Linked DNA regions of Homo sapiens: all the other regions are linked to region 2. The links come from fine-mapping of genetic effects on gene expression. A gene starts in region 2. Each other region holds a variant in brackets. All regions are shown on one strand. Distances are from middle to middle. Region 1 overlaps MR1 (major histocompatibility complex, class I-related). Region 2 holds the start of IER5 (immediate early response 5). Region 3 has its middle 35 kb from the start of IER5.

Region 1 (10,835 bases), 28 kb after region 2:
TGAGACCAGCCTGACCAACATGGCGAAACCCCGTCTCTACTAAAAATACAAAAATTAGCTGGGCGTGGTGGTGGGCACCTGTAATCCCAGCTACTCAGGAGGCTGAGGCGGGAGAATTGCTTGAACCCGGGAGGCGGAGGTTGCAGTGAACCGAGATTGCGCCACTGCACTCCAGCCTGGGCGACAGAGAGAGACTCTGTCTCAAAAAAAAAAAAAAAAAATGAGAAAATTGAACTATATGACACTCAATGGGCCCTCCAGCTCTGCAATTCTGTGTGCCCATAGATCTACCCTGGGTGAGTTGTTTTTGCAAGGTGAGGGAGCTTATACTTTTTCCTTTATGCACCAGCATCTCCATATACTAAGAATCAACAAGTAGCGAATGTTATCCACGGGTTTCACTGACATGTCCATGAAATGTGTGGTAACTTGCTTCATTTGGCCCTTTAGGCCTTGTTCAGCCTTTAAGTCACATCATCAAAGTCAGAGGAAAAAGATTCAAACTTTCCTAAATTTATCAGGGCCTTTATTAATTTTTGATTCATTGCACAGATGTTTGAACTCCTTTGTTCCCAAGATTAAGTACAGAACATAGTGTCGGCGAAAAGAATCGAACTCTGTAAAATATTTGAAGAGATTTATTCTGAGCCAAATGTGAGTGAGTGACCATGGCCCAGGAGGTCCTGAGAACATGTGCCCAAGGTGGTCAGGGAGCAGCTTGGTTTTATATATTTGAGGGGGGCATGAGACATCAATCGAATGCATTTAAAAAATACATTGGTTTGGTCCAGAAAGACTGAACAACTCAAAGTGGGGGCTTCCAGGCTATAGGTGAATTTAAACATTTTCTGGTTGACAATTGGTTGAGTTTGCCTAAAGACCTGGGATAGATAGAAAGGGAATGTTCAGGTTAAGATAAAGATTGTGGAGACCAAAGTTCTTTTTAAGTCTTACAGTGGCTTAAAGACAATAGGGGACAAATGTTTCCTATTCAGATCTTAGTTAATCTTTTTAGGATTGGGAGGGTCTGGAAGAAAAAGATCTAGCTATGTTAATAGAGATTCTTTACAGATGCAAATTTCCCCTGACAAAGAACAGCTTTGCAGGGCCAATTCAAAATAAGGCAAAGAAACATGTTTTGAGGTTTAAAATATATATATATTTAAATTAATATTAATATTTAAATTACATTAAAATTGATATATTTAAATTAATATTAAATATATTACATATCATATATATATATGTTTTTTTGAGATGGAGTCTCACTGTGTCACCCAGGCTGGCGTGCAGTGGCGTGCAGTGGCGTGATCTCGGCTCATTGCAACCTCTGCCTCCGCTGGGTTCAAGTGATTCTCCTGCCTCAGCCTCCCGAGTAGCTGGGATTACAGGTGACTGCCACTGCGCCCATCTAATTTTTGTGGGTTTTTTTTTTTTGAGACGGAGTCTTCCTCTGTAGCCCAGGCTGGAGTGCAGTGACGCGATCTCGGCTCACTGCAACCTCTGCCTCCTGGGTCCCGGTTCAAGCAATTCTCCTGCCTCAGCCTCCCAAGTAGCTGGGATTATAGGCACACACCACTATGCTCAGCTAATTTTTGTATTTTTAGTAGAGACAGGGTTTCACCATGTTGGCCAGGGTGGTCTTGAACTCCTGACCTTGTGATCCGCCTGCCTCGGCCTCCCAAAGTGCTGGGATTCAGGCGTGAGCCACCACGCCTGGCCAGGTTAAAATATTTTGATTTTCTTCTTTGTCTGGTAATGTTATGTCAGAGTCAAGTTGGAAAATAAATCATGATATGTAGGGTTAAATAAAACCCATCTGATGAGAATTTATGATTTATAGAGCATGACTCCCCAGTCCCCTTAGATAAGAATTTGGGCAAGATAAAAAAATCAGAGTTTAGTCCTCAATAGTTTTAAGTGGATGACACCTCACAGTTTTGGTCAGGCATTGATGGAGTGGGCCTACTGTGTGCAGATAGGACAGTGCCCTGTGTGCAGATAGGACAGTGCCCAGACTCAAGACAGTGTCTTGAGTCTGAATCATGCCTCTGCCACTTATTAACTATATAACCTTGTCAAGAAATACAATTTATCTGAACTTCAACAAAATAATAATAATAATACCTGCTGCCAACGTTGTTATGAGGAATAGAAGTAATATATGTGAAGTACCCAGTGCATAGTAAGCACCCATAAATGGTGGCTGCGATTATATGGGACATGGGGAGCAGTCCCTGGAGAGCACGTAGAGGAAGACACATCCCAGATGCCATTTCTTTGCAATATGCTTGCACACACACATCTCCTTTAATCCCCACTTTGACACTGGAAGACAGGTATTGACTAGCCCCGGGTTTTATAAAAATGAGGCTCAGAGAAGTTAAACAACTTAAGATCACCCTGATACTAAGTGAAGGACACAGAATTCACATTGTGCCCTTAAGGGGTTTATAGTCCAGCCAGGGAGATAAGCCGAGCAGAAACAGATAAATACCAACACAGAATAGCTAAGTGTCAGTTGAGTGGCAGAGCTGAAAAGCACTTAGGCGTTTAGTAAGGGAATTATTTCTCTGAGGATAGGCTATCAGGAAGACAAAAGGAAACTAGAGGATTAGAAGTTCCTCTGTCTCACTGAACATCTCTGAGTTCCTTGCTGTCGCCATCGCCACTGCCTATGGGTCCTCTTAGCCCAGCCCAGCGGCTGCAGGGAAGGAGGCAGTGCTGAGCCCTTCATCCTCCCCATGTCCTTTGTTTCATGGCATATTTATGTGCAGGCCCTCCCATCTCACTTGAAAGTTTTATTCAACCTGTGTCTTCAGTATTACTATGAAAGCTCACTGTCAGAGTTGTATTTCTTTCTTTCTTTTCTTTTTTTTTTTTTTTTTTTTTTTTTTTTGAGACAGAGTTTCGCTCTTGTCGCCCAGGCTGGAGTGCAATGGTGCAATCTTGGCTCACTGCAACCTCTGCCTCCCAGGTTCAAGTGATTCTCCTGCCTCACCCTCCCAAGTAGCTGGGATTATAGGCACCAGCAACCACACCCAGCTAATTTTTTTGTATTTTTAGTAGAGACGGGGTTTCACCATGTTGCCCAGGCTGGTCTCGAACTCCTGACCTCAAGTGATCTGCCCGCCTTGGCCTCCCAAAGTGCTGGGATTACAGGTGTAAGCTACCGTGCCCCCAGCCAGAGTTGTATTTCTTCTGTTAGCAGAAAACCCAGGGACTGTTTTATAGAAATGCATTCTAGATTACAATCTCTAAAATTATTTTCTGTGATGTGAGCTTGATTTTTCTATAAGCATATGTCTGGGCCATTTTTGTACTTGCTAATTTTCAGAACATCATTGTGCTGTGTTGCCTACAGAGTCTGGCTTGTAGGAGCAGCAGTTCATTTTGTCAATATGCATATGTACTGAGTGCCTACTATGTGCCAGGCACTGAAGTGTCAGGCCTTATGGCGCATATATTTCATGAATGGTTGATTAACTAATGAAGGCCATAAGAATTTGATTTAAATATCAGTATTTGTGGCAGATTATTAATAAGAAACTGGGGTAAAAAAAACTCTGTGGCTTGAATGAAAATATGGTGTATACCATGCCACACAGAAAAAACGAATAATTCCTTGTGGCTGGGGGCAGTCTCTAAAAATGTCATCATTAGGCCCAGAAACATGTCATCTTGTAGACTAATTTCAAGTCTGTGAAGCTGCACTAGTTTACAGATCTTTGAAATTTGATCTCAATTTCAGTTGCAAAGACCTAAATTGGATTAGAACAGCTTGCCTGTCTTCTTCAGGGATCCTCAGGGACCAATGACCATTCAGTCTTTTAACAGTAAGGTGAAGGGCTGCCCATGTGCTCGGCCTTGGTGGGTTACATCTGGTTTGGCAACTTCCTGTTGTGTGTAACACAGGGACTGTGCATTCGTAGCTGTTTCGTGAGTAATATGCAGAGTGCATGTGTTGGGTATTTTAAAGTACGTGAGAGGGTTGTGTTTCAGCAGCTGATGGGATGCCAAATGTTTGACTTTTTATTATTCCAGCCCTTCAGATTTCCCCAGAATTGTCACCTTCTAGAGCGTGTGTCTTGCCAGTGTGTTCCAGGAATTCTCTATTTATGCCACTGTGATGTTGCTCAGAAAACAACAGAGCTTTCGGTTAGTTCAAGTAAACTTAGAATCTGCGCTGATGCCTCAGAAAGGAAGAAAGGCCAGGACGGCCTCGGCTTGGGTGGCACTCTTATTTCTCCCTTGGTTTCACTTCCTTATTTTCGTGGCTTCCCATTTCATCCTGTAGCCTCCTCTCAGAAGCTGTTTCCCCCCTTCCTACTCCCTTCCCACCCCCGGGTTGTTTCCCCGGTTGTTCCCACACTCTAGCCCATTTGTGTCCTCAGAGGTCTGGCCGCTGCCACTGCACCTGCCTCAGACCCAGTGTCACCTCGCCAGGGCTTCAGCCAGCCTGACCTTCCAGCTGCCACCCAGCAGCTCAGCTTAGGGACTCAGAACCTTCTGGCCCAGACCTTCATACCCAACTCCCGCCCAGGGGCAAATGCA[G/A]AAGCCTCTGCTGGTGCAGCCAACACGGAGTGGGGGCAAGGCGGAGAGGAAAAGCAACAGCTCAGGGTGTGGTAAGAGTGCTCAGGGTGCTTCCCAGCTCAGGGCATTGGTAAGAGTGGGTGGAATTTGCATGTTAAGAACTTTCATTAACCAAATACCCAAATGGTGACAGAAAAGCAAATTCAGACTAGTTACATTTCTGGAAGGTTTCAGATATTTGGGCCCCCAAGATGGCTGAGAACTCATTTCTCAGCACCTCTTCTCATAGCCTTCGAGAAAAACAGTACCTCCCATAAGAACCTCCGAATTCTATCTTTGTCTTTAATATGTATGTGTTGGGTGGGGTGGGGGTATTGATGGAATGTTTCAGATCACTAATCTCACAGACAATGCAATGACAAGATAAAGTTTATTAGATGGAGAATGTTAATACAGCTGAAACCTTTGAAGAATTCAGACCAGTCCTCAAACCATTCATCCTGAGTACCTGGAATGTTATATGATCTTGAGTGGGATATTTCCCCTCTATGACTTCAGCTGTAAGATGACACTGTTCTTTTGTACCAGTACATGAAGACTAGCTAATTAAAATACTATACTAGTTCATTCAAAAAGTATTTACTGAGTTGCTACTACGTACAAGGCATCATGCAAACAGACTGTGCAGTATTACATAAAATTTTTAAAATAGATTTCCATAAATAAACACCATGATAGGATTATGTAACATCTTCCAGGGAATTTTAACCGTTTGGATGTACTACACAGTGGTTCTGGTTCTACCAGTCTAAATGAATTGACTTGTTTTTTTTTCCACCATCACTCCTCCCTTTCAATTCAATTCATTCATTCTGGTGTGCAGCCCATTTCTGTCTATTTTCTAATGATATGACCAGAGCCACCATGTAGGCTTGTGCCCTGCACAAGGATAGATACCCCACTGGGGAACAAACGGGACCAAAATCTACTCTGTGTTCTGCTGGCCAAGCCGGGTGACCTGGCCTGGGCTGGCGTCCTCCCAGAAGAAGGGTTCATTTTTCCAGTTTGCACACATGTGCTATTTGTGGGTTAGCTGAGGCCCTGCTTATGTCTTCAGTTGGTTCACAAACCAGAAACAGAACAAATGGCCATCATTTGATTACAAATGTAATCAAACTAGATTTACAACCAAGGCTTGCTGAGTGGCATTATGGGTTTTATCCTGTTGCATGGCAAGCCGCTCATGCACGGGCTGTGCTCAGTGTCCTTTTTCCTCAGCCATGCCAGCCATGGGGAAGCAGGAGGGGAGCTTGTTGGAGAAGGTGGCCTCAATGAGAGCCTTGGTGCATTCCCCTGAAGCCACAGTTTGGGGCTTCTCCCTCAGCAGGGGTCTCCACAGTCTGAGTGTTTTCAGAAATCTTATATCCAGGGGACCCCAAATCTTATGTCCAGGCCCCAGGGTCTGAACTCATATTTAAGTACTGAAAGGCATCAGCATCTCCCCTCTGGTTGAACTTGACCTTCTTACTGAGAACCAGCCAGGCAGGCATCAGAAGCCTCAGGCTCCAGAGGAGAAGCTGGTGGGCAAATAGGTCAGGAGCAACTGCTTTCACCATCAGGGATGAAAGTTGAAGACCAAGAACACTTCCTTGTCCTGTGGTGCAGGGGTTGGGATGGAGGGGTGAGTCTTATAAATGGAAGAGAACTAAGTGTTGTGATTTAAAGGAAGAACATTTGCCTCCTGCCCCCAAATGCTCCCAAACTCTCCAAAATTCCACAGATTCCTTTGGCTTAACTCCTTTCACAGAGGTAAGCTAAGGTAGTCAGTCTCACTGTAGTTGCGGTGAATTCATTTAATGATCTTGGTTTCCTAACTGCTAGATAATCCAGTGGAGCCAAAAAATTTTGGTGGATTGAGGGAACCTACAGAGGTTGGGTAGAGATGTGTTAGGAGTTGAATTGTTTCCTCCAAAAAATTCATGTTGAAGTTATAACCCCCAGTACCTCAGAATGTGGCCTTCTTTGGAAATAGGGTTGTTGCAGATGTAATTTGGGAAGGTGAGGTCATCCTGCAGTAGTAGAGTGGGTCCCTAATCCAGTATGACTGATGGCCTCATGAAAAAAGGAAATTTGGACACAAAGCCATGCATGCAGGGAGAACACCAAATGAAGACTAGAGTTACGCAGCCAGAAGGCAAGGAACAACCAGAAGATAGGAGGGAAGCCTGGAACAGATCCTTTCCCAGTCCCTTTAGAGGCAGCATGTTTCTGCCAACACTTCATTTTGAACTTCTGGCCTCCAGAACTGTGAAACAATAAATTTCTGTTGTTCCAAGCCACCCAGTTTTTGTGGTACTTTTAAACGACTACCCTTGGAAACCAGTACAAGGTGGAACGGGGAGACGATGGAGAACATGACATTGTGACATGTTGCATCTTTCCCAAAATGGCCACAATGATATCTCCCAACTACATGCTCTTCTTACAATGTAACTCTGACAATCTTCCTATTGAGTGTTGGGTTCTATACACCCTCTTTTTGAACCTGAGCAGGATTTTATGACTTCTTCACCAATGAGAGTATCACAAGAATGACATTTTGTGACTTCCAAGATTAGATTATATAAATGCTATGCACTTTGACTGTGATCTCTTGGGATACTCACTCTGAGGGAAGCTAGCTGCCATGTAAGCAGTGACTGCCCTGAGGCCACCATGTTGTGAGGAAGCCCAACCCACACAGAGAGATTACATGGAGAGTTCCTGAGACTACATGGAGGAGATGTAGCTGATGCCTGGCCACCACCCCTGGCTGCCCCATTTCTGTTCCAGCCACCACTTGCCTCCAACTCCATGAGAAGCCAGAACTGCTTACCCAAGCCATATCCAAATTCCTGACCCATAGAAACTATGAAAGAAAATAAAATGGGTATTGTTTTAAACCAATAGGTTTTGGGTTTTGTTACACAGTCTGTGGGGTTTGGGGCAACCAGAAGCTAGAAGGACAATGGAGAAAGGGAGGCCAGAGTGAAAAGGAGATGCAGAGATGTTACAGAGACATACAATGCTCAAAGATGGCAATTTCCAAAGAAAGAGAGGTGAAGGCAGCTCAGGCAGTGGAATCATCAACCTCTAAAAAGCACAATGTACTGAATGTCCTGAAGCTATTGGGGAAAAAAAAAAGATGAAAAGGGCAATGCAGTTAAGTGGGAAACACCTGGGCTGGGAGATGCCTGTGCTTCTTCCTAGCTCTGCTGCCCACAGCACATGGCTATGGGCAAAGCCCCCTGTCCTCCTTGGAGAACATTCTGTGAACTAATACACTGTGTGTGAGAAAATAGCAAACTCCAGAGAGCAGGTGCTAACAAGCAAGAATGTGTCCCCTTGCACCAATTCTGGGGTCATCAAGCACTCTACAGATTGTGATTTAGTTGTTCTTATGTAGATTTTCCTGCTGGAAGGTGTACTGACCAGCTGAGACAGATATCTGACCCACTTAGCAATTGTGTTTCTCACAGTAAATTAATACATTGGCACTCCACTTTATATATCCATCTGATCACTTTGTGGGGACACTAGACCTGCATATGTGAGGACAAAGACCCCAGACAGTGGTTTTCAAAATAAGGTGTGACTGCTCTGTGTGACTCTGGCAGAAAATGATCAGCTGGCCTCCCTAGTGGACAATCTGTTCCTCATAGCTACAAGTGCAAAAACATCTTCTCTCAGGCCAAAAAAAGAAGAGGAGAAACCAAGTCATTCCTCAGAAATAAGGAAAGGATCACAACTTGGAAATCATGGGAGTAAGAGGAGAGAGGAAAGGAGGACTGGCCCCTGATGGGAGAGCTCAGAAACTCTCGATGGAGTCTTGTTGGATTTTTCACCCTGCTCTTTAAACTGCTTTCTCTCCCTTAAATGTACCACATCAAAAACATCTGCCATTTAAATTTACCACATCTTGGTCTATATGCACATCAAAAACAAACAAACAAAAAAAACAAAAACAGGTAATAAATACAGTGGAGTTAAAAAAAAAAAAAAGAACAGAGTTGAACAGGTTTCTCATCTAGTGTTCTTGATCCAAAATATTCAGTAAAGAAAATTCAAAGCCAAAACATAGCTGTGGCAATAGCACAGTTATTTGTTTTTAATGTTTAGATCATGGTGTCAAATATTTCATAGGTTATGATTACTGAGCATCTGTACTCAACAACCATGAAGTAATGAAGCAATAACAAGGCTAAAACAATTAAGAAGTAATATAATCTTCAACCATCTATAGTAAAATGAAGGTTGCAGAATTTTAGGTATTACTTACTTATTTTATTTTTATTTTTTTGAGATGGAGTTTCACTCTTGTTGCCCAGGCTAGAGTGCGATGGCGCGATCTCGGCTCACCACAACCTCTGCCTCCCGGGTTCAAGCGGTTCTTCTGCCTCAGACTCCCGAGTAGCTGGGATTATAGGCATGCGCCACCATCCCCGGCTAATTTTGTATGTTTGGTAGAGACAGGGTTTCTCCATGTTGGTCAGGCTGGTCTCGAACTCCCGACCTCAGGTGATCTGCCCACCTCGGCCTCCCAAAATGCTGGGATTACAGGCATGAGCCACCGTGCCCGGCAGTATTTTTTTTTTAATCATCTCTTTATATTATGATTCTTTTAGTATTATAAAATCCCCCAGGAAGAAACATAAATGCTACAAGTGCATAACAGAATGTTTTGTCATCACATCCTTGTCCTTGCCTCCTCTTCATCCATTTGGACATATTATGTGTTAGGTGTAGGGCAAGGCCTTGGAAACACAGAGGCTTTTTATCTGTGTCTTTGATGAGAGTATCCTGCAGTTGCAGAATCAAAAGGCATTTACATAGATACATTATCACCTGTGTCTATGTAAATATGTACCTTTTCACTTTAAATGCCCACCCAAAAATATATTACATCCTAACTATTCTGATTGTAAGAAGAAACCATTCCAGAAATAAACTTGCCTACATTCTCTTCACAGTGCAACACTGCTTAAAAGTGGCACGGAAATTGCCCATGGCAACCCTAAAAACAAAATAAACACAACTGTGCTTCTATGCAACTCAACAGGCACCGGAAAAGAGAGATGTACAGTGGTAGCTTCATATATGGAATTACATGGGACAGTGGAGCAAGGAGGAAGCCTGGCAGGTGAGCTCTTAGAGGCCTGGCACACTGAGGGTATCTTTCTTTTTTTTTTTGGAGACAGAGTCTTGCTCCGTTGCCCAGGCTGGAGTGCAGTGGTGTGATCTCGGCTCACTGCCACCTCTGCCTTATAGATTCAAGTGATTCTCCTGCCTTAGCCTCCCAAGTAGCTGGGACTATAGGCACATGCCACCATGCCCAGCTAATTATTTGTATTTTAGTAGAGACAGGGTTTCACCGTGTTGCCCAGGCTGGTCTTGAACTCCTGAGCTCAGGGAATCCGCCTGCCTCAGCCTCCCAAAGTGCTAGGATTACAGGCGTGAGCCACTGTGCCCGGGCTGAAGGTACCTTTATCTGAGGCTGTAATGATTAAAGCCAAAGGTCAAATGTCACAGTCAAGGTCAAGGGAGAGCAGAGGTCAAACCTGAGGTGCAGGACAAAAGCCACTTGTCAAAGTTCAGGTCACTGAAGTAAGCATTAGGGCTCAGGTGCAGAGTCAAACGGGGTCAGAGAAGTAGGACCGAGGAATGTGTGACTGGCAGCCCCAGGGCAAGTAGCTCCACATGGCAGGGCAGTAGGTGAGGCCTCAGGGGTTGGGGATAGTAAGGAACATTAAGGGGATGTTCATTCTCACCATGGGCTTTTATTGATTCCCAGTGCATATGTATGAAGACAACCTATGTAGGAAGGCAAGTCATGCCCAGCTACCATGAGCCAGCACAGGAAAGGCAGAAATGAGAATTGAGCCCTCTCCTGACACCAAATATACTGTTATTATTATTATTATTATTATTATTATTATTATTATTATTTTGAGATAGAGTCTCACTCTGTCGCCAGGCTGGAGTGCAGTGGCGTGATCTCGGCTCACTGCAATCTCTGCCTCCCGGGTTCAAGCAATTCCCCTGTCTCAGCCTCCCAAGTAGCTGGGACTACAGGCACGCAACACCATGCCCAGCTAATTTTTTGTATTTTAGTAGAGACAGGGTTTCACCATATTGGCCAGGATGGTCTTAATCTCCTGACCTCGTGATCCGCCCGCCTTGGCTGCTCAAAGTGATGGGATTACAGGCGTGAGCCACTGCACCTGGCCATACTGTTATTTTTACATTAAAATAGTGCAGCTGGG
Region 2 (10,835 bases):
TGAAAAACTCCAAGGGCATGTGTTAAGATCACAGTGATTCCTAACATCAACTCTCCTTCTATGTTTTTTCCTCCCAAGGCTTTCCACTGGGTTGAATTTTAAATTTGAACAATGGTTCAAAGGCTGAGAGACAAACTGCTCATTACTGGAAAGAGTGCCAGGAATCCTGGGAAGCAGGCCTCCCTCCCCACCGGAGCACTGCACCTCATAGTAATGGCCTCTTTCATAGTCACGGAAAGGTTGGATCAGCGTTTCTTTTCATTCCTGTCTTTTTTCAGGGACTGCTGGGATAAAAGGAAGTCTAGAAGAATAAAAAATTCACAAACAGGAGAAGAATAAAATATTTAGGGCAAGAGATCAGAAATCCTTTGGTTATTCAGTGAACTGAACTAACTCTACTTTTTTTTAAAAAAGTACAAGGAAATAAATGTCCATCAAATGCCATATCACAGTGGGATTAGCCTGTCGACCCCATCACACAGGATCTGAGGCTAGGTTATCATGCCTAGTAAGTTGCAGTAAGAGAGACTCAGACTAACCCAGTGATAAGATGGAACAGTTTTATAATTATTAATTTCATTCCCAATATTTCTGACATCTTTATTCTGAGAAGCTTTCCACCAAAGTTGTCAAATGACCCATTTCCTCTCACTTCACACTCCCAAATCCAATCAGTGATGAGTAGAAGGAATGGAAAGGTTATTTGGTGCCATAAAGAAAACCCAGTCACCTTGGAGGAGCAATTCAGGCTTTCCATCATTAGTTCCCATCGCCAAGAACAAATGATGGTTTCTAAAAGGGAAGACAGGGTTAAAACAACATGGTTGAGAAGTACATACTAGGCCGGGGGCAGTGGCTCACGCCTGTAATCCCAGCACTTTGGGAGGCCAAGGCAGGTGGATCACCGGAGGTCAGGAGTTTGAGACCAGCCTGGTCAACATGGTGAAACCCCGTCTCTACTAAAAATACAAAAGTTAGCCAGACGTGGTGGTGCATGCCTGTAATCCCAGCACTTTGGGAGGCTGAAGCAGGACAATCGCTTGAACTAGGGAGGCAGAGGTTACAGTGAGCTGAGATCACACCACTGCACTCTAGCCTGGGTGACAGAGCAAGACTCTGTCTCAAAAAAAAAAATACATTACTAACATTTATCCCTTTATTCTCTTTTTTCCCACCACCACACCTGGCTAATTTTTATATTTTTAGTAGAGACAGGGTTTCACCATGTTGGCCAGGCTGGTCTTGAACTCCTGACCTCAGGTGATCCACCTGCCTCGGCCTCCCAAAGTGCTGGGATTACAGGTGTGAGCCACCGCGCCCAGACTTTATTCCCTATTAATGTGATCTTCTTGGAGTACTTGTTGGAAAGCACTTTAAACATCTGGCTTTTACGCAGCAGTCAGAAGGTTTTTTTACACCCCAGAGCTAAGGTTAATTTGATCAAGAGACTAGGTCCCTCCCAGAGTGGTGAAGAAGTGGTTAGGTACTAAAACCATGGCATCGTTTCTAGTCACACTGCATCTGATTTGGTTGTGTGATAGCCCTAGGTTGGCATTGGGAAGGCTCTTGTCCAGAACCTATCAATAAGCATGTTTTAAACATTCCATGCGCAATAATTCAAGCAAAAATAACTTTATGGGCTACTTTTTTCTTTACTCATCCACAGAAAGCATTTGTATGTCAACAAGAACTTTGCTCCTTGCCTGTTTTCACTTCAGCTTACTCCTCCCTGAAAATAGAGTTGTTTGATACAATTGGAAAAATCATCCGGTTGGTGTGAGACATTCACAGCAACAAAACTATGTTGGTAGAACAAAGCTTCCTGACTGCCAAGTGTCCAGAGAAAAAGAGGAATAAAAGAACCCAGCATTCACACATAGGACCACTTAAAAATAGATTCTCCATTCTCCTCTTTTCTTACAAATACACACAAATCTTTGACCACAGTGTATCTGATTTATACACAGAATTAACTTCTACATTAACAATAATTAACAGTTGCGTGCTTATTACATATGAGGTACTCTTCTAAGAGCATTAACTCATTAATTTTCACAACCCTATGAGACAGATCCAATTATCCCAATTTTACATTTGAAAAACCTGAGGCACAGAGAGATGAAGTAACTTGTCCAAGGACCCACAGCTAGGTGGCAGAGCCAAGATAGAAAAACCCAAGCAGGCCAGGTTGTGGTGGCTCATGCCTGTAATCCCAGCACTTTGGGAGGCTGAGGCAGGAGGATTGCTTGAGGCCAGGAGTTCAAGACGAACCTGGTCAACATAGCTCACTTTATATTTACTTTTTATAATTAAATAAATAAATAAATAAAGGAAGACACCAAGCAGCCTGGCTCCAGGGCCCATGCTCTAACTACTATACTATACTGCTTCTGCAACAAAAAAGAGAATGATCTTTTCTAATTCCTACAAAGCTTTATCCTCCTATCAAGTATGCCAATTTACATTCTTTAAGCAGACACATGGACCCAGGTTCATCTTAATGTAAAACCAAGGATCAACTTTAGTCTCATCCAAAACACATCAGCTCTCTTAAACACACCAAACGTTACCCCCTTTAAAACATAAAATACACTGAGATCGCTGTTCAAGCATCATACTTTCTAACAACAGGAAATGTTTGCAGAATTAAGGCCCTGGACACCTTCTTCAGTTTAAGCAGTCAGCACTTGATGGATCTTTTGTAGCTGTAACAGAATTTAAGTAGCTACTTTCTGAAAGAAAAAGTCAGTTTAACAAGACCCTAATTTGAGAATGTTTAATTCTATAAATACATTATTATGGCGACAGAGCATAAAGTACAAAGTTCCCTATGCTTAAGGAACCACTAATAGATTTGCCGAAATATCAAGGCACGAGGCACTGGCCTATTCAGCTAAAACAGAAGTTCGTATAATTGGGAGTTAAGGCCAAGACACCATTCATATGCCTCTTATGCTCGAAGGCTATGACCTTTAAACCTTTGTCTTTCTTCAATCTCTCCCATCTTTTAAATACCCTATATACTCGTAAGTTGTTAGAAACCAGTACCATCTTTTAAAGTCCTGGCAACTGTACCGTATTTTAATAAACACCATTCCCTAATTGATTTGCTTCTGAAATAGATTACTGAATACCTTTCAAACATTGAACATGAAGAGACAAAAAACTCTCTTAATGGCAGTGATTTTAGTAAAATCGATGGATGTTTTGGCTATCATCACCTAAGTGTCTACCATGACCAAACACTGATGTCACCATTTAAGTAACAAAACAAATCAGGAAGTTTTGCTAAATGAGAACTAAATTTGCCTAGCCCTCCTTCCTTATCTGGTTTGATGCAAACAATTTCCCTCTCAGCAATATATTTACTTTCTAGATGTAAGAGAAAAACTGAAAATTTACATCCTGACATCCACTGTGATGCAGAGGTGGACCTGACAATTTGGACAAGTCAGTCTCTTTCATCTTCCTATGTCAGTTCGAATGGGCTTTTAAGGTAAACTACTATCTAAACTTTTTTTTTTTCAATTACAAAGCTAAAAGATGACCCGTATTAATAGCTTAACAGGAAACAAAGTTTTGCTGAAAAACATTTTTGTGGATAAGCGGGGCTTCAAAAGTTGGTTAAATTACTTAGTATTAGACACCCACATATTGGGTGACAAATTGGTCTAAACTGACCTTAGAAAAGGCAGTTGTAGTGGCAGGTTTCTAGAACCTGACAGGTCGCCGATATTAGTATCTAATAGCAGTCCTCTGATCTAGGAGGAAAAATTAAACGTGTCTCTCTTGATACTTAGTGGAGTCAGTAAACAATGTCCTCAGTCTGCGAATGACTGATACTAAGAACCACACCTTCAATTTTCTAGCTCAGGCCCTGGTTTCCCTCCTCCCACTTCCCTCCCAACCCAGGCAGGTTATTACAGACAAGCAGGCAGTTACGTTGCTTCAAAATATTTAATACGTGTTAGACACGTAGAAGTTACATTTTTATACAAAAATCAATACAACGAAGGAGAAAATACTGTACAAAAACCTTATCAGCTCCCCCAACCTTTATACAACAAAGACTGGAGTCACCATATCTACAAAACCATAAGGTCTTTCCACTTCGGGCTTCTGTCTGTAAACTCTCATTAAACACTTTTTAAAAGCACTGTGTAGTACTTCTGACCTAGAGCTTTTAAAAATATATCTTTTCTCTATAAACTCCATTATTTCCAAGCTTGAACTCTTCTGTGAAGTTCGTCAAGCTTTTTCTCCCCTGCGGGGAAGCAAAGGACCGTTAATACGCCCCTTTCCTAGAGTAATCACAGGATATAAACGTTTCTTCATTGGGAGAGAAAGGTGGGGAGGGACAGAAGGAATCCAAGTCTGTGCTCTTGGCTAAATCCCTCTCGTCTTAGGAAATCCTGTGCGGAAACGCCACTCCTGGCCCTGAAGCGGGTCTAGCTTTCCGGTGAGGGGTAGGTGTAAAGTCCCTCCCTCCCCGGAGAACGAATGGGGAACTCCCCGGCCCAAACCTTTTAGCCGCTTCCTTCTCCACGCAGCCGGCAGAGGAAAGTCCCTGTCTGCCCCCAATCTCTTAAACCCTGGGGAAGGAGTGGTGCATTCCAGAAGAGCAAAATAGTCTTAATGCCACAAGACAAACTTACATACACAGACATACACAAACACAAAAGTTAACGATCGTCCTCTTCCAATGAGCCTCAAGCTCCCAGGTCTCCAGATAAGCCAGATGCGCCCGGGGGCAGTTTGCGATGCCCAGAGGCAACCAGTCTGCCCAACGCGCTCAGCGCCCGCGGTCTCTGGGCGTCCTCGCAGCCGGGAAGGGCCTGGCCCTCACTTCGGGGACGCCCGCTGCTCCACCTCCTCCCCGCAGGGGGGCCAAGGGCTCAGAAGGCCACGATGGCTGTGCTCCAGGGGTTCATGTCTCTCAGCACCGGCTTATCGCAGCAGATCTGCCCGGGCTCGGCGGCTTCCGGACCGCTCTCCTCTCCCTCCTCTTCCTCTCTGCCGCCCCCGGGGCTTTTCCGTAGGAGTCCCGAGAAACTGGAACCGAAGATGCTGATGAGGTTAGCCACGTTCCCGGTCTCCATCTCCTCCGCGTCGTCGTCCTCTCCTCCACTCGGCGGCTGCTCTAAGTTCCGGCGGGGCTTCTTGAGCGGGGTCGAGCCGGGCGCCGGGCAGCCCGCTGGGCCGCCGCCCACCCCCGCCGCGCAGCGCTTCCTGGGGCACACCGCGGGCGGCGCGGGGGGCTCGTCCTCCGCTGGTTGCGGCGCGCAGCAGCAGGCAGCGCGGGGGGTCGCGGCCGGTGTACCCGGCGGGTCCTCCCCGCCTAGGGGGCAGCCGCAGGGGCGGCGCGCGGCACGAGATACCTCGGGGAAGACGCCCCAGCCTCCGGCGGTACCCTCGGCTTCTCTGGCCGCCGCCTGGCGCGGCCCCTCCACGCGGCTCCAGGCAGCTTCCGTCGCGTCCGCCTCTCCGCCCTGAAAAACGTCCCCGACTCCAGTCACCGTGGCCACCGGCACCTCGTCCCCTACCCGCGGCGCGTCTGAGACGGAGGAGCGCTCCGGCTGCGGCTCGGTCTCCGGCCAAGAGGCACGAGCGGCGGGCGGGGGCGGCTCTCCCCAGCCGGCGGGTGGCCCGGCCGCCGGCTCCCCGGGCTGCTGCTGCGGTGGCGGCGCCGGGGTCCCAGCGGGACCGGCCAGGTAGAGGCCGGGGCACGGGTCGCTCAGGTAGACTTGGCGGGCGCTGCGCAGCACCAGCGAGACCAGGAGGTTCTTATGCAGCTTGATGCCGCCGCGCTGGACCCGCGAGTTGTAGATCTTGCCCAGAGAGATGCTGACGATGCGATGAGCCTCCAGCTTGAACTCCATCTGCTTCCCCTGCACAGGGCCGTCGGCGCCGGGGTGACACGTTTGGAAATTGGGAGGGAACGGGAGGCGCAAACAAGTCCGCCCCCTGGGCACACCCTCGATCACCTAAGACTCCGAAGAGAAACGACTCTGGTGACGCGCGCGCTGCTCTACTAACCTCTCCAAACAAGACAACTTCCCCGTTTCGGGTCCGGTCGCTAAACAGGGCAGCCTGGCTGCCCCGCGCCTTATATAGGCTTCTCGACCGCCAATCACGAAGGGCCGCCAACCGTTCCGGGGCTGGCCGGCGCGCCCTCGTGCGCCGCGCACGGCCAATCGGAGCCCGAGGAGGGGCGCCAGGGCCCGTTCGAACGTTAGTCCCGCGGAGCAGGCTCTTAAAGGGGGCGACGGCTTGCGGCCGCAGACCAGGCCCGTGGGGAGTGAATGTTCGGGACGGTGCTCGAGAGCGCTACTGTTTGGAGTTACAGATTCTGGCTTGTGCGATGGCTTGCCGGAACCAAAGCGAACAAAATATTCGAACTTTCTTCCGAACACGGTGGTGGACTCTGTTCTGCCATAAAGTCCTGATCCTTCCCTGATCGACTCCGCCCTCACCAGCCACACCACCGTTTCCAGGCCGGCCACACCTGTAAGCGACCCCCCTCAACCCTGGCAAAAATAGAGATGGTGGCCATACGCGGCGGAGGACACCCCTGGATAACAAATAGTATTACTGCAAAGTATTTGGCAATCATTATTTTTGGATGAGCCGCTTTCCCCGCTAGAGTCACATACACTCTTAGCAGCTGTCAGTTCTAACCCCAAAGAAAAGGGGGATTCTAAAAGTTTTTGCCTAGGTTTTTGGCTTCTTTTCAAGGAATCGTGTCTAGATACAAAGTTATTGGTTGTCCTCTAAAGCTGGCATCTTTCACTTTGTTCTCTAGATTCTAGAACAAACCCAGTTATCAAATAAGTTAAATGGAAGATGTTACAGGTTCTCCACAATGATTTTTTTTTCCTTTTTTTTTTCCATTTCCATTTTTCCATTACAAGGACTGACCAGTCCACCCTTGGAAAAATCGAGCAAGTTCTGAAAATAAAAAGAAAGAAGTCCTGTGTTCCCATGATGATGTCATAATTTCATTTCGTGTCAAGGTAAAAATATAGTGCTAGGGAGTTCCAGAATTTTCTGGTCAGTCAACAACTTAGTCCATCTACTGGTCCTTATAAGTATATCAGGACACAATTACCACGGGGTTGCCCAGGGTCCTGGACTGGAAACATGGAGTCACTTCCAGTTAGTTCCACCGAAGCTCCACCACAGACCTGCCTGAGGACTCTGGGTAAATAACCTCAGGCCGCTTCAGTGTCTCCACTGCTGAAAAGGGGGAAGTCACATACACATCTGCGTTATTGTACAGACGATAAATGACAACTTCTCAGCCACAATCTGAATGAGAAAACTAAGCACTGCTTTCTTGGAGTCCATGTGGAACCCTGGGCCTGATCCTGCCCCGGGGTTGGTCAAGCAATGAATTTATTTAGGAAAAATACCAGTGAAGAGTGGGCTTGATCATGACCAATTCACAATCTCCAGAGGATGTGATGGCTCAATAGCATTACCTGTGCCCACAACTGATGGTAACTGAGACAGCAGGCTCTGAGACCCAGAGTTCCTCCCCTCTAGGAATTTTCAGCCCACGTAGAGGAAGATATAAAATAATGACACGAATAATTACAAAACCAAATAGCATATATTGAGTAATGACACAAGAATTTTTCTCTTCTCTTTTTCTTTGCAAGTTATTAGTCACTATAAAGCAATGGCTAAGAGCACAGGCTGAGGAGGCTGGCTTCCTAGGTTGGAATCCCAGCTTCACCTTTCACTTGCTGCATGGCCTCTGGAAAATTACTTCACTTCTCTGTGCTGCCGTCTTTTTTATTACAAAATAATCAGCCGGGTGTGGTGGCTCACGCCTGTAATCCTATCACTTTGGAAGGACAAGGTGGGCGGATCACTTGAGATCAGGAGTTCAAGACCAGCCTGGCTAATATGGTGAAACCCTGTCTCTACTAAAAAAAAAAATACAGTAATTAGCCTGGCATGGCGGCAGGTGCCTGTAATCCCAGCTACTCGGAAGGCTGAGGCAGGAGAATTGCTTGAACACAGGAGGCAGAGGTTGCAGTGAGCCGAGATCACACCATTGTACTCCAGCCTGGGCAACAGAGTGAGACTCTGTCTCAAAAAATACAATAAAATAAATATAAATATAATAATAATAATGCCTACCTCTTAGAGTTTTTGTGAGGGTAGAACAAGGTAGCACATGCAAAGCTCATAGAACAGCACCTGGCATATAATAAGCTATCAATGTAGGCTAGTTCTCAGAACACACTACCCCACATACTACCCTGGGGTGGGAGAAGAGGCTGGGAGAAGAAAGGAACATAGATGGGAGAAAGTTTCACCAAAGAAGTTGTATCTGAAGAGGGTGCTGAAAACCTCTGAGGTAGGATCCACAAGTTCCAAGCAGCAGGAGCAACAGAGTCCAGTGTAGGGAACATCTTACTTTGCAGTTGTGCTGGGCACATGCCCAAAAGCAAGTGGGAAAGGCTAGAAACAGAGGCCGAGGCTGCATGATAGTGGGTTGTGGGTGCCTTGATGAGGAGATAGGACCACAGGGACCTTACTAAAGGTTGTTCAGTAAGGGAAGCACAGAATAGATTCTAGAACAGTTGGTGCATAGAAGAGCACACATAAAGCTCTTGTGGAAATTTAGGCAAAGGGTTGTGAAGACCTGAACTAGGTGGAGGCAACAAGAATGAAGAAACTGGCAGGGCATGGTGGCTCATGCCTGTAATCCCAGCACTTTGGGAGGCCGAGGTGGGCGGATCACGAGGTTAGGAGTTCAAGACCAGCCCGGCCAGCATGGTGAAACCCCGTCTTTACTAAAAATACAAAAAATTAGCCGGGCATGGTGGCACGTGCCTGTAATCCCAGCTACTTGGGAGGCTGAGGCAGGGGAATTGCTGAAACTCAGCAGGCAGAGGTTACAATGAGCGGAGGTCGCACCACTGCACTCCAGCCTGGGTGACAGAGCAAGACTCCATCTCAAAAAAAAAAAAAAAAAAAAAAAATGAGGAAACTGAGAGACAAAAGAACTTTAGTGATGATCTGGGATGCTCCCACTCACCCATCCAGGCAGGTTATTGCTAGTGTCAAGCCTCTTGCCTTCCATGAAGGCTTTCTGACCTGCCTGAGCTGAGCTTTTCCATCATCCACCACTGTACTCAGCACACTCCTTCATCATTGCCCTCATCACTTTCTCCTGTCATGCCCAGTGTCCCTCCCAGACTATGCCCTCATTGAAGGCAGGAGCCCAGCTCATATTTGTAGCCAGGATATGGTGAAAATACATAACAGCTGGTGCAGTACAGGCACTAACCATCAGAACAGGGTCCTGGAGGCCCTTACAATGCTAGGGGTTTGGAGGGCTCCTGCAAGAGGGGCTGCATGGCCAGTAAGGGGGCTACTCACGGGCTTAGGGCAGAGGTTCTATCAACTGACATGGAAACATTTCAATACTTTAACAACTGGGTTGGCTGTACCAGTGCATACTGAGTGATTATACACTTGGATTAATGAATTCCTAATAATAATAATGTTTACCAAGCACTGTGCTAGACATAGTACATGCATTATTTAGCACATTTATAAAGTTCTGAAAGTAGATATCATTATCTTCATTTACATTTAACCTACTTAAAGCTCCAATGTGGGGTCATGGGGCTAGATTGCCTGGCTCCTCTTCTCACTGCTGTGTGACCTTTGGAAAGTCATCTCACCTCTAGGTGAAATGGGAAATCCATATTTTAGTTTGCTTATATAGGCAAGTTATTTAACCTCTTTGTGCCTCAGTCTCCTGTGAAAAATGGGAATAATAAAAATAACTAAATTGCTTAGTACAGTTCCTAGCACCATATAAACACTTATAATTCTTAGTTATTGTTGTTATTATGGTTATTGTTATCACACCAGTGCCTAGCACAGTTCTGAACACATAGTAGGTACACTCTTAGTACTTGTTGAATTTTTAATGCTTTTTCTGCTGTACCACATAATAGGTGCTTAATAAATGTCTGATGACTTGCAAGTTGCACATTATCACTGTCATTATCAGGATTTTCTTTGATCCTGAGCCAACGAAATGGAACCTTTAGAACTCATGTCTGGAGGGCCCGAGTTCGTATGATCAGGAAACTTCACCTCCACCTACCAAAAAAAGCAGGACGATAGCATATTCTTTTAAGATTTAGCAAGCAGGAACTGAGTTAGAATTTGCCATCATCCATCTCTGAGATTTTGTCAGTTGAAAAGAGAAGTTCGCAGCATGATCAGAAACAGTAGGGTTGTCAGAAGAACAGAGGAACCAACTGCTCTGGAAGAAAAGGCCAGAGCACCTCCCACAGGTCTGTTCTGTCTTTTCACCCCTCTGCTGGGCACAGGCAGATTAGTACAAGGAGCTTTGGGCTCTGCTGTTTCCACAGCTGTCTGAGGTCACTCAGGCGCTATCTGGGCTCAAGCCTGTGGATTCCTGTCGCACAGGCTGCTCTGCCCACTGCTGTTGACACTATTTACGCCCTTGTTTACACAACTAATTGAAGGCTAAGTATTATTATCAGATGATTAAAGATCTTAACTTGCCTTAAATTACGTCTAGTCTGTGCAAACCCACTACAGATTATGCACACGGTAGCTATGTGAGAAGTAACAATTAGTAAGAAGGGAGTTGGTGAAAGAAAAATAAGTTATTTGCACTGTCCCTACCTTTCAATATTAGGACATTTTCAATTGGTGGGGGGTGAGGGGCAGTGTCAAAATTGCTTATGCAATCAAATAGTCATTTGTATGACATACTAAATATTTAGGGGGAAAAGATCTATAAAAATACATTATTAGCACTTTATGTAAGTGAT
Region 3 (10,835 bases), 35 kb before region 2:
AAGGGGTATTAGTAGGAGACGTTTTCTTCCCACCCCTAGGGAGTCCGCAGTTGGTGCCTGCCATGACTGGGAACCAACCTGCATGGCCACTGGGCAGGGCCAGGCTGGGCCCCAGGCTGCTCTGCGGAAATTCACGCTGCAGGTCTCAGCCGCCCCTCCCTTTGACCCTCAGCCTGACCAGGGAAGGGCATCCGACCCACACACTCTCACTTCCTCTTTCCAAGAACAGAAATAAGGCACCAACTTAACACATTGTACTTGGAGAGAGTCTTGCACCCCTTTCAACTCCTGGACATCGTTCTTTCCTGAGTGCTTTTCTTCCCTCTTCTGCAGCACTCCCTTTCCTCTCCACACAGCATTCTGGTTCTGGCTTGCTCTCTCTGCTCTCTTCTCCCTTTGAGCTCTCGTACCCAGGATCCTAGAGCGTCCGTTCCTTCTGGGCTTTCTTTCTCCCCCCCATCTCTCATGTCTCCCTCCTCCTTTCCTCCTAAGTCCCAAGCCTAGAGTCCCCTCCACCTCTTTCCCAGGCCCTGCTCCCCTCTGTCTCAAACTCCTCCTTCTCCTCAATTCAGAAGAAAGCTGGCCAGAGAGATCTCCTGTCTCCTCCCCCTTCACTTCCCCTCCTCTCCCCGCAGGCACACAAAAGGGGACAGAGGCACCAGATGGCCCGGTGCTAAAAGAGGGGCTCAGGGAGGCTGCCGCCCACAGAGGCCCCTGCTGGGCCTTCAAGCTAGTCCAAGCTGCTGCCGGGCCCAGCCGCCCAGCTGGCAGAGGAGCAGGGCAGAGGACCAGCATCCCCAGTACGAGGCCAGCTCCCCCTGCCCGGCCTGCCCTGGGGCCAGCCTGGAGAGGGAGCACGCTTGCCAGCTGAAAAGCAGAGGGTGTCACCATGTGTCCAAGCCTCAAGCGCCAGGGGCAAGGGTCCGATGGCCCGTGGGGACACTGGGCTTCCTCAGGAAGAAGGAGAGGAGTGGCTGGCAGTCTGCTCTTTCTATGGAACAGGCTGTGCCAAGGAGGGGGCCTCAGCAATGGGTGAGCAGACCACAGGGGAGCCAACAATCCCCCAGTCCCCTCACAAAAAAGAAGATTTAATGACGCATTGGTTAATGTTAACAGCTACCATTCATTCAGTGGTTAGCTGGGCCAGGCATTATGCTAAGTCATTTCCTATAACATCCCTAATCCTTCAAGAGTTCTGCAGGGTAAACATTTTGATCCCTATTGTACAGACAAGAAAACTGAGGCTAAGAGAGGTTAAATGACTTCCCCAGGCATCATAGCTGGAAAGTCAGTTAACACAGTTTATTCCAGGGTTCAAGCGATCCTCCCACCTCAGCCCCACAAGTGATTAGGTCTATAGGCACGCACCACCCTGCCCATAGTGAGACAGGATCTTACTGTGTTGCCCAGGCTGAGCTCAAATGACCCCCCCAGCCCCACCACAACCACCACCTTGGCCTCTCAAAATGCTGGGATTACAGATATGAGTCACGGTGCCCGGCCTAGTTAATACAGTTTAAAGTTTCTTTTCCAGTTAAGATTCTGTAAGTCCTGCTAAGGTGGTGTTGCAAAAGCAGGCACCTAACAATGTCCCCACTAAGGCCTTCAATAAAGCCACAGGCAGGCCAGGCGCGGTGGCTCATGCCTGTAATCCCAGCACTTTGGGTGGCCAAGGCAGGCAAATCACATAAGTTCAGGAGTTTGAGACCAGCCTGGCCAACATGGTAAAACCCCGTCTCTACTAAAAATACAAAAAAATTAGCTGAGTGTGGTGGCACATGCCTGTAATCCCAGCTACGCAGGAGGCTAAGGAAGGAGAATTGCTTGATCCTGGGAGGCAGAGGTTGCAGTGAGCCAAGATTCCACCACTGCACTCCAGCCTAGGCGACAGAACAAGACTCCATCTCAAAAAAAAAAAAAAAAAAAAAAAAGCCACAGGCAGAAGCTTCCAATTCAGTTCTCCATTGCACATGCCTGTGTTGCTTTTTTAAACATCAAGCTCCCAAGTCCCCTCCTCTGGAGGTTCTGATGTACCCCAGCCTCTCCGGAGACACTTGTGCAGGAACAAGAGCTGTGAAGCAGGGCAGACTCGAGTTCCCAGTACCAGTCACGTGACATGGGAAAAGCTACTTCCAACCCTTGGAGCCTCAGTTTCCTACTATTAAAAAAAAAAATGGAGATAATAATGTTTGCTTTACCCATGTGTCATGAGGAGTCTAGGCTGCTTGGCACAGTGCCAGGTGCTCCATAGGTGCTCTGCTGACGTCAGCTCCCCTTTCCTGCCCTTCAGAAACCTGATGCTGCAGCATCCACACTTCAGAGAGCTAAAAAGAAAGGGGCATAGCCCATGGATACTACTCCAGTTAAGCTGACCTTTGGTTCTGGCCTTAATCTAAGTCCGTGCACCCTGCCCCAGGGTCAGGCAGCTCCCACAGGGCTGCAGGACAACAACAAGCCGGCGTAGGCTGGGGGATTTCCAGGGGCGGGACCTCTGCTTTCAGAACTTCCACGGAAAGGCCTCAAAACTGACCAGCTCCACCTGCAAAAGGTCACTATCCAGGCTGGCTGAGAGTCTCTGGAAACCTATCAGTCCATCAAACTGTTCCCCAGTCTTCCTTCCATCATCTGCCAGAGCCCGTATTTCCAGAGCCACCTCTACCAGCTGCCCCTCTGGATGCAACAGGCCCGCCCCCAGGTTCAAGCCCTCCTGCCTGGCCCAGCCGCCATGAGCCCCTCAGGCCATTCTCTCCTGCCAGCCCTAGGCATTTCCCAACCCTCACCTAAAACCCATGTCCCAATTTAAAAGGCAATGAGTGGCTTCCAAATACACCCTTACCTGTTTACTCAGAGTTGACTTTGAGTTACCTGGAAGATGCGCCCACTCCCAATAGCCTGGGTGACAATCTTTCCTTTCCACCTTTTTAACAGAGGACAAGTGAGTTCCAGGAAATGCCTGGAGTGCCTAGCTACCTCTCTGGAGTACACTCAAACCCACACTCATTCTCGCTAAGCAACTTGGCGGAGGCCCTGTTTCACAGGCACCATGCTGGGCACATCTGCCTTCCTCAGCTCCCCTTCTTGAGAAACTGGGAGGTAGGTGCCGGTATCTTTATTTTATACATGAGGGGACTGAAGCATTAGGCCATCTGTATAAGCTCCCACATCTGATGAGTGGTGAACTCAGGATTTAATCCCAGGACTTCTGGGTCCCAGACAAGAGCATTTTCTACTCCACTGTGTCTGCCTCTAAAATCTACCTCAGGCCAGGCGTGGTGGCTCATGCCTGTAATCCCAGCACTTTGGGAAGCCAAGGCAGGTGGATTACCAGCGATCAGGAGTTCAAGACCAGCCTGACCAACATGGCAAAACCCTGTCTTTACTAAAAATACAAAAATTAGGCCGCACAGTGGCTCACGCCTGTAATCCCAGCACTTTGGGAGGCCAAGGCAGGCGGATCACAAGGTCATGAGATCGAGACCATCCTGGCTAACATGGTGAAACCCCATCTTTACTAAAAAAAAAAAAAAATACAAAAAATTAGCCGGGCATGGTGGCAGGTGCCTGTAGTCCCAGCTACTCAGGAGGCTGAGGCAGGAGAATGGCATGAACCTAGGAGGCGGAGCTTGCAGTGAGCAGAGATCGCGCCACTGCACTCCAGCCTGGGCGACAGAGTGAGACTCCGTCTCAAAAAAAAAAAAAATACAAAAATTAGCCAGTGTGGTGGCGCCGCCTGTAATCCCAGCTACTCAGGAGGCTGAGAAAGGAGAATGGCTTGAACCCAGGAGGCAGAGGTTGCAGTGAGCAGAGATCGCGCCACTGTACTCCAGCTTGAGCAATAGAGTGAGACTCCATCTCAAAAAAATAAAATAAAATAAATCTACCTCAAATCTATTTCTCACCCTCTTTGTTGCCCCCATCCAAGGGGGCACCTTCCAAGCCACCACAGCCGAGGCCTGGGTGACTATAATGGCCTCCCAACTGGTCTCCCTGTTCTCACTCTTGGTCACAACCATCCATTTTCCACAACAGCCAGGATGGTCCTTCTCATGAAGTGATCATGTTGCTCCCCTGCTGCACAAAAAATAAAATCAAACTCCTCCCCATGGCATATAAGGCCTGTGTGATCTGTCCCTTCCCCCTCCCCGCTGTCCCTGATACCCCTTCCATTCTTGAAGTCTTTTCCTACTCTGGGATCTTGGCACTTGATGTTTCTTCTCCTTTCCTCTTGTTGCTCCGTATATTACTTTATTTTATTTTCTTCATAGCATTTATAACTATCTGAACCTTTTAAATTTATTTACATCTTGGGTGTTTGTCTGTCTCCATTGACCAATGTAAGCTTCACAAGACAATTTTATCATGCTTTCCATGGCACCCTTGTGCCTGGAACAGCACCTGGCCAATAGTAAGTGCTCAATAATTATCCACTGGATGAATGAATGAGGAGGTCTCCCTAAGGAGACCTCAGAGATGATGGGGCTGAAAGACATCAGAGGAGAAGAAAGCTGGGGCAGTTTCACCTGCAATATGTTCAACAGAAATGGCCCCACTGAGCCTCACAGTCAGCCATGCGACAGTGCACCTC[G/A]TGTCTGGGACAGAAGAAAGATGGTCAATGTGTGCCCCAAAAGAGGGAACTATTTGGAAACTGGGAGGGTAAAGAAATAATAAAAATGTTGGGTTTTGTAGTGGTGGCTGTTATTTTTTAAGCCCACTCAAGGGGGGTTTTCTGCAGTGGCTCAACATAAGCAAACACTAGAACTAAAAAAAAAAAAAAAAAAAAGAGGAATTAGAAAACTGGAAAGAACTAAATGCTGCAGCTAAAATGGAATAGGTTCCCCAGAGTCTGATCTCATGTGTGTGGGCTAACATGACTCTTAGGGAGGCCTCCTCCAGAAGAAAACAAAGCAGAAGGAGGAGGAGGAGGGAGGAAGAGGAAGGAGGAGGAGGAAGAGGAACGAGGAAGGAGGAGGAGGAACAACGAAGGAGGAGGGGGAGGAAGAGGAGGAGGAGGAGAAGGGGAGGAAGAGATGGGGGAGGAAGGAAAGGGGAAGCAGGGAAGGGGAGGAGGAGAAACAGCAGCCACCAACAAGGCAGCCCAGTGACCATAACATGGGAGTAGTCCATTGACAGAAGTCCTTCACACTGATGGTCACATGGGGAAGTCTCTGTCCATGTTCCTAGCATGCACTCTGACTTCAGAGAGACACTAGTATAAATAGGGTGAGAAGATGTAGGGTGGAAAGCAATCTAGCACCCATGTGAAAACTCAAGTCCCTTCTTCCCACCTCCTGCAGCCTGGTCTGAGCCCCTCCTGTTCTGAAAGCTGTGCTTGGCTGGGCTCTCCCTGCTGCAGACTGTCTGAGGATACTCAGTGCCTCAGAAGACATGGGCCACATCTCTCTGAAGCACCGATTCTACTTGATTATTTGGTGGAAGGTATTTTTATTAAACAGAGATTTTGTTTTGCCATAGATGCAAAACGTACATGACTTTTTTTTTTTTTTTTTTTTTTTTTTTTTGAGACAGGGCCTCACTCTGTGGCCCAGGCTGGAGTGCAGTGGCACCATCACAGCTCACTGCAGCCTCAACTTCTGGGCTCAGGTGATCCTCCACCTCAGCCTCCCAAGTAGCTGGGATTACAGGCATGCACCATCACGCCCAAATTTTTATATTTTTTTGTAGAGATGGGGTTTTGCCATGTTGCCCAGGCTGGTCTCGAATTCCTGGGCTCAAGCGATCCTCCTGCCTCAGCCTCCCAAAGTGCTGGGAATTACAGGTGTGAGCCACTGTGCCCGGTCACAATGAACGTGAGTTTTTAAGATAAGATGTGAGTTTTTCATACATTTTACACCTGTAGTACTTACTACAAATTGCCCAAAGGGCATTTACTCTCTCCTGTTTTTCAGCAGTATTAGGAAAAGCAGTATAGTGGTTAGGTGCATGGGCTCTGGGACTGCACTGCCTGAGTTTGAATCCAGGCTCTGCTTGTATGACCTTGGACAAGTTACTCCACCATTCTGTGCCTCAGTGTCTGCATCTGTAAAGTTGGGATGATAGTAATAGCACCATCCTCATAGAACTAGGTGAGTTCATGCATGTAAGGTGCTTGTTCAGAACAGTGCCTGACTCACGGTGAGCACTAAGTGTCAGTTATTTTATTACTCTGGTAGACAGGCTGAGAAGCTGTCAGAGCCCACAACAGCCAGTCCCTTGCCACCTTGAGCTACCTTCTCTCCCCAAAAAGAGTACTGGTAACAAGGGGGGTGGGGACAATGGTCTGGCTCTTGGGTGTGACTGATGAGGTACAGGCACTAACTAGCAGCTGTCCCAGACACACGGCGCCCCCTCCAGAGGGGTGGACATGAAGGAACCATGGGGCTCACTTCAGGCCTCTGCCACAAGCTGCTTCCCTTACCTGGAAGGCACTTCCCAGCTGTTCCCCATCACTGTCTTCCCCTTTCCCCCACCAACTCCAACCCATCCTCAGGACCAGAGCTGGGACTAAGGACACAAAGTGTAAGGGGGCACTCACTCCCAGGGTCATGCAAGTGCTCAGGCCTCGGCTCAGCTCTCATCTTCTCCAGGATGCCTTCCCTGAGTCCCATCCATCCAAGTCTTCCTGGTGTCCCTCACTGCACTCACCTCCAGTCAAATGCCATTGTAACCCATTGCCTTGTCAGGCTGCCCCCTGTGCATGAGCTCCTGGGGGTCAGGTGCATTTCCTCATTCTTTTTCTACCTATAGAGCCTCACACTTGGCAAGCACAGAGAAGGCACCCGATAAGTGTTTGGTGAATAAGTGTTGAATGGATCATTCTCTAGGGGATCCCAAAGCCAGCAAAAGTAAAATAATATGTTCATCTCCCAGGTAAGAGACTAGAAAAGGGGCCAAGGAAGGGAGAAGAGAAGGAGGGGAGCATGGAGAGAGCGCTAGGAATTGGATGATGGTAGAAATTCTCCTGACCTTAGGAAAGACACCCAAGAACAAGGGAGAGCACTCCCTTCTCCTCCTTCCTGAGAAGCATGGCATTCTGGAATGCACCCAATCATTCCTTCATTCATGCAATAGTCCTGTGCTGGGCACCAGCTGGCACCAAGCACACTGCTGAGCAAGGAGACAGGGAGGGGAGGGCCCTGCTCCAGGCTCCTGGGAAAACCCGGGGCCCAGCTCTGTTTCTGCTTCTCTCCATGCTGAAATGGGCCACGGGGGCATAGGCCCAATGTGCCTGGTCGTGGAGTCACAATGCTGTCAGCCTTCAGGCCACTTTGTGACAATCCTACCGTAGGAATTGTGCCTCTGGAGAGACACAGTAAGGTGTGATGAAAACGCACCACAAGACCAGGCACAGTAGCTCCTGTCTGTAATCCCAGCACTTTGGGAGGCCAAGGTGAGAGGATCATTTGAGGCCAGGAGTTCAAGACCAGCCTGGCCAACATGGTGAAACCCTGTCTCTACTAAAAATACAAATATTAGCTGGGCATGGTAGCACATGCCTGAGGTCCCAGCTACTCAGGAGGCTGAGGCAGGAAAATCGCTTGAACCCAGGAAGCAGAGGTTGCAGTGAACCGAGATCATACCACCGCACTCCAGCCTGGGAAACAGAGCGAAATTCTGTCTCAAAAAGAAAAAAGAAAACACATCGAGTTGTGGGGACTTGGGCATCACTGATCCTCTTGTCCTGGTCCCCTATCCCTTGTCTACTCCCTTGTCACAGTCCTGATAGGCCTCCAGATAGCTAAGAAAAGAATCCCCACACTGGATAGCCTGCCTGTAAATAGGAGAGGCCAGAGGAGGCAGGGAAGGAGCAGATAATTCGCCTGGACTTGATCCCTAGGTGTGGCCCATAACCGCGGAGTGACTGTGGGTCTGCCATCTAGGCTTTCTGTGCCTCAGTCCTAGCATTGTGGGTTAAGTGACATAACACATGTAAAGGGCCGGCATAGAGTGTAGTAGGCTTCAACAAATGCTAACTCTCTTCCTTTGAATAATGAACTACACAAGATATACATAGTTTTCTAAAATTTATTTTATGTTGCAGTGTCTCCTCGACTTAAAACACTATTTTCTAAGGCTGTTCATTTGTCAAACAATGACTACAGTTGCCAAGCATCCAAAACTCCAATTCTGGTCAGCAGAGCCCCACGGTCTGTTCTGGGGACAGGTAGCAGAAGCGAGGGGCAATACCTCCACCTGGGGCATCTGGAAATGCTAACACAAAGGGGTGAAACTGGGGCTAGGTTGGAAGACACAAATAGAAGTTGGGGGGATGAGCAGAGATGGGTGAGAACAAGGGAGGCCAGAGAGAAAGAACAGCTTGAGCAAAGCATGTGGCAGACAAGAGGTGTGGCACACTCGGGAAACCACACACAGGTCACCTGCCTGGGGGACAGTAATGTGCAGGAAGATTGGATAGGAGATGTGGCACTGCAAACAATCAGGGTCCAGTCCAGAAGGGCCCTTCAACGAACATAATGGGTTTGCATTTATCTTGACAGAGAGGTACCTGCAGCAGCAATGTGGATGGGAGAGGGTGGGGAGGCTCCAGGCAGGGAGCCCAGGCTAGAGGCCATTCTGATAACCAGGCTGATACATGATTCAAGCCTGGATTAGGACAGTGGCCCAGGAGGGGAAAAGAGATGTTTAAGTGGTAAGAGAAACAGACCTAGAGAGTAGGAGCAAGAGAAAGGGAAGTATCTAGGAAAACATCCACATTCCAGGCAGCTGCACTGAGACTATTTACTGAGACAAGGGAACCCTGGAGGAGTCAAGAGCAGTGAACTTGGTTTTAGATAAAATGAATTTGAAATACTTAAAGGAGGCCGGGCGTGGTGGTTCACACCTGTAATCCCAGCACTTTGGAAGGCCGAGGCGGGTGGATCACCTGAGGCTCACCCCGTCTCCACAAAAATACACACACACAAAAATTAGCCGAGCATGATTGCGGGTACCTGTAATCCCAGCTACTCAGGAGGCTGAGGTGGGAGAATCGCTTGAACCCGGGAGGCAGAGATTGTAGGGAGCCAAGATCACGCCACTGCACCCCAGCCTGGGTGACAGAGCAAGACTCCATCTCAATAAATAAATAAATAAATAAATAAATAAATAAATACTTAAAGGACATCTAGGTGGTGTCCCATAGAACCTGCCAGCAGGATGAGTTCAAACCCAAATCTGGTGAGTATTCACTGTGTACTCTTAGGCCTCCACAGTTCTGTTTTCTTATCTGTAAAATGAGGCTGCTACCTACTTCATAGAATTATTATTTTTGAGCCAGAGTCTCACTCTGTCATCCAGGCTAGAGTGCAATGGCACAATCTCGGTTCACTGCAACCTCCGCCTCCCAGGTTCAAGCGATTCTTGTGCCTCTGCCTCCTGAGTAGCTGGAAGTGCAGTCATGTGCCACCACACCTGACTAATTTTTGTAATTTTGGTACAGATGGATGGGGTTTCACCACATTGGCCAAGCTGGTCTCGAACTCCTGACCTCAAGTGATCTGCCTGCCTCGCCCTCCCAAAGTGCTGGGATTACAGGAGTGAGCCACCTACTTCATAGAATTATTGAGAGAATGTGGGCTAAAGAAGATAGCTGTGGAAAAGCACCAAGCCTCTTAGCTGGCACACGGTGGGAACTCCATGAATATTGGTTGAATCTGAAGATGACTGTGATCATGGATATTTCTGTGTTAAAGTGCTGTCACCACGAGTGTGTGGGCAGCTTGGTTCTTTTCATCACACGCCGTTCCAGCTAGGTGGAGAGGACTGTGGTCAGGGTTGCTGGGTGGCCAGCTGCTCCTACTCTCTCGTTCTGTTTTTCTTACCACCCAAACATCTCTTTTCCCCTCCTGGGCCACTGTCCTAATCCAGGGAGTTCTTCATGTCCACCTCCTCAGCCCCCACCCCTGGGACAGGCCTTACCTCTTCCAGATCCCCTGCAGCCACCCTGCCCAACAGGATTCCAAAGACTAGAAGAACCTCCCCAGCCTGACTCAGGCAAACTGAATGCCCTGTCTCAAACAAGCAGGGGCCCTGAGGCAAGTCTTGCTCTGGGAAAACAAACAGGTTTTTATTACCTCCACCTTAAGACAAAGCCTCAACCTCTGGCTGCTGTGAGACACTCATTCCCAGGAAGAAAAATGACCTCTAATTGCAGTAGTACATGTGACACCTCCCTGGTAGACTGTGAGCTCCCTGAGGGCAGGAACTGGGTCCTACAGGTCCTGATTTTCCTCCTAGCCCCTAGCACCTGCCAATCTGAGTACATGGTCAAGGAAGGTTTGTTGGGTTTTCATGCCTGTGTGTTTGGTTTCTGCTTCTGAGCTAGAGTCTCTTGCCAGGTAAGCAGAGTAGATGCACTCCTCAAAACTCAATAGGAAAACGTCATGCTGGGTCATGGTGAACAGGATCCAGGACCAAAGTCCCTGCTGCTTCCTTCTCCTCCTTCCCAACTCCACACCTGCCCGAACTTATGACAAAGAGACCGAGTGTCTTGGGAGTAGATTCCCAAGTCATGCCTAAAACAATGCATTAGGTCCTTGAATAGATACGATTTGGGTTACTAACCTCCAAGTCACATCCCCTTCATCAATAAATCAAGGCAACTCCAAGAACTTTCTCCTCCCCTGTGGTCTCACACACTGGTCCATGGAGCTCTGGAGTGGAGCAGAAGACACTAGGGCCTGTTCCCTAACACACTCACGGCACTTTCCACTAAAAACAAGCCAGCTTGGCTGGGCACGGTGGCTCACGCCTGTAATCCCAGCACTTTGGGAGGCCAAGGTGGGCGGATCACCTGAGGTCAGGAGTTCAAGACCAGCCTGACCAAGACGGTGAAACCC

The links.
Region 1: its variant is fine-mapped to the expression of IER5 in whole blood (TOPMed, PIP 0.96).
Region 3: its variant is fine-mapped to the expression of IER5 in whole blood (TOPMed, PIP above 0.99).

What each region holds. Positions count from the first base shown.
Region 1 is chr1:181,056,048-181,066,882 of GRCh38, reverse strand. It overlaps MR1 (major histocompatibility complex, class I-related), which reads right to left. Exons shown (of 6, transcript NM_001385161.1): 6 at 4,945-10,835. Among named protein-coding and RNA genes, the nearest start is that of IER5, 27 kb to the left of the region's middle. RefSeq lists enhancers at 4,036-4,085, 4,726-4,855. The variant G/A (reference allele first, on the strand shown) is at 4,555.
Region 2 is chr1:181,083,947-181,094,781 of GRCh38, reverse strand. IER5 (immediate early response 5) reads right to left here and starts at 6,082. Exons shown (of 1, transcript NM_016545.5): 1 at 1,882-6,082. The coding sequence starts at 5,879. The coding sequence ends at 4,896. LOC124904465 (a long non-coding RNA gene) reads left to right here and starts at 6,281. Exons shown (of 2, transcript XR_007066762.1): 1 at 6,281-6,507; 2 at 6,912-6,985. RefSeq lists silencers at 4,275-4,569, 5,144-5,363, 5,564-5,723, 6,034-6,303 and an enhancer at 4,584-4,753.
Region 3 is chr1:181,118,685-181,129,519 of GRCh38, reverse strand. No RefSeq gene overlaps it. Among named protein-coding and RNA genes, the nearest start is that of IER5, 35 kb to the right of the region's middle. RefSeq lists an enhancer at 569-668. The variant G/A (reference allele first, on the strand shown) is at 4,586.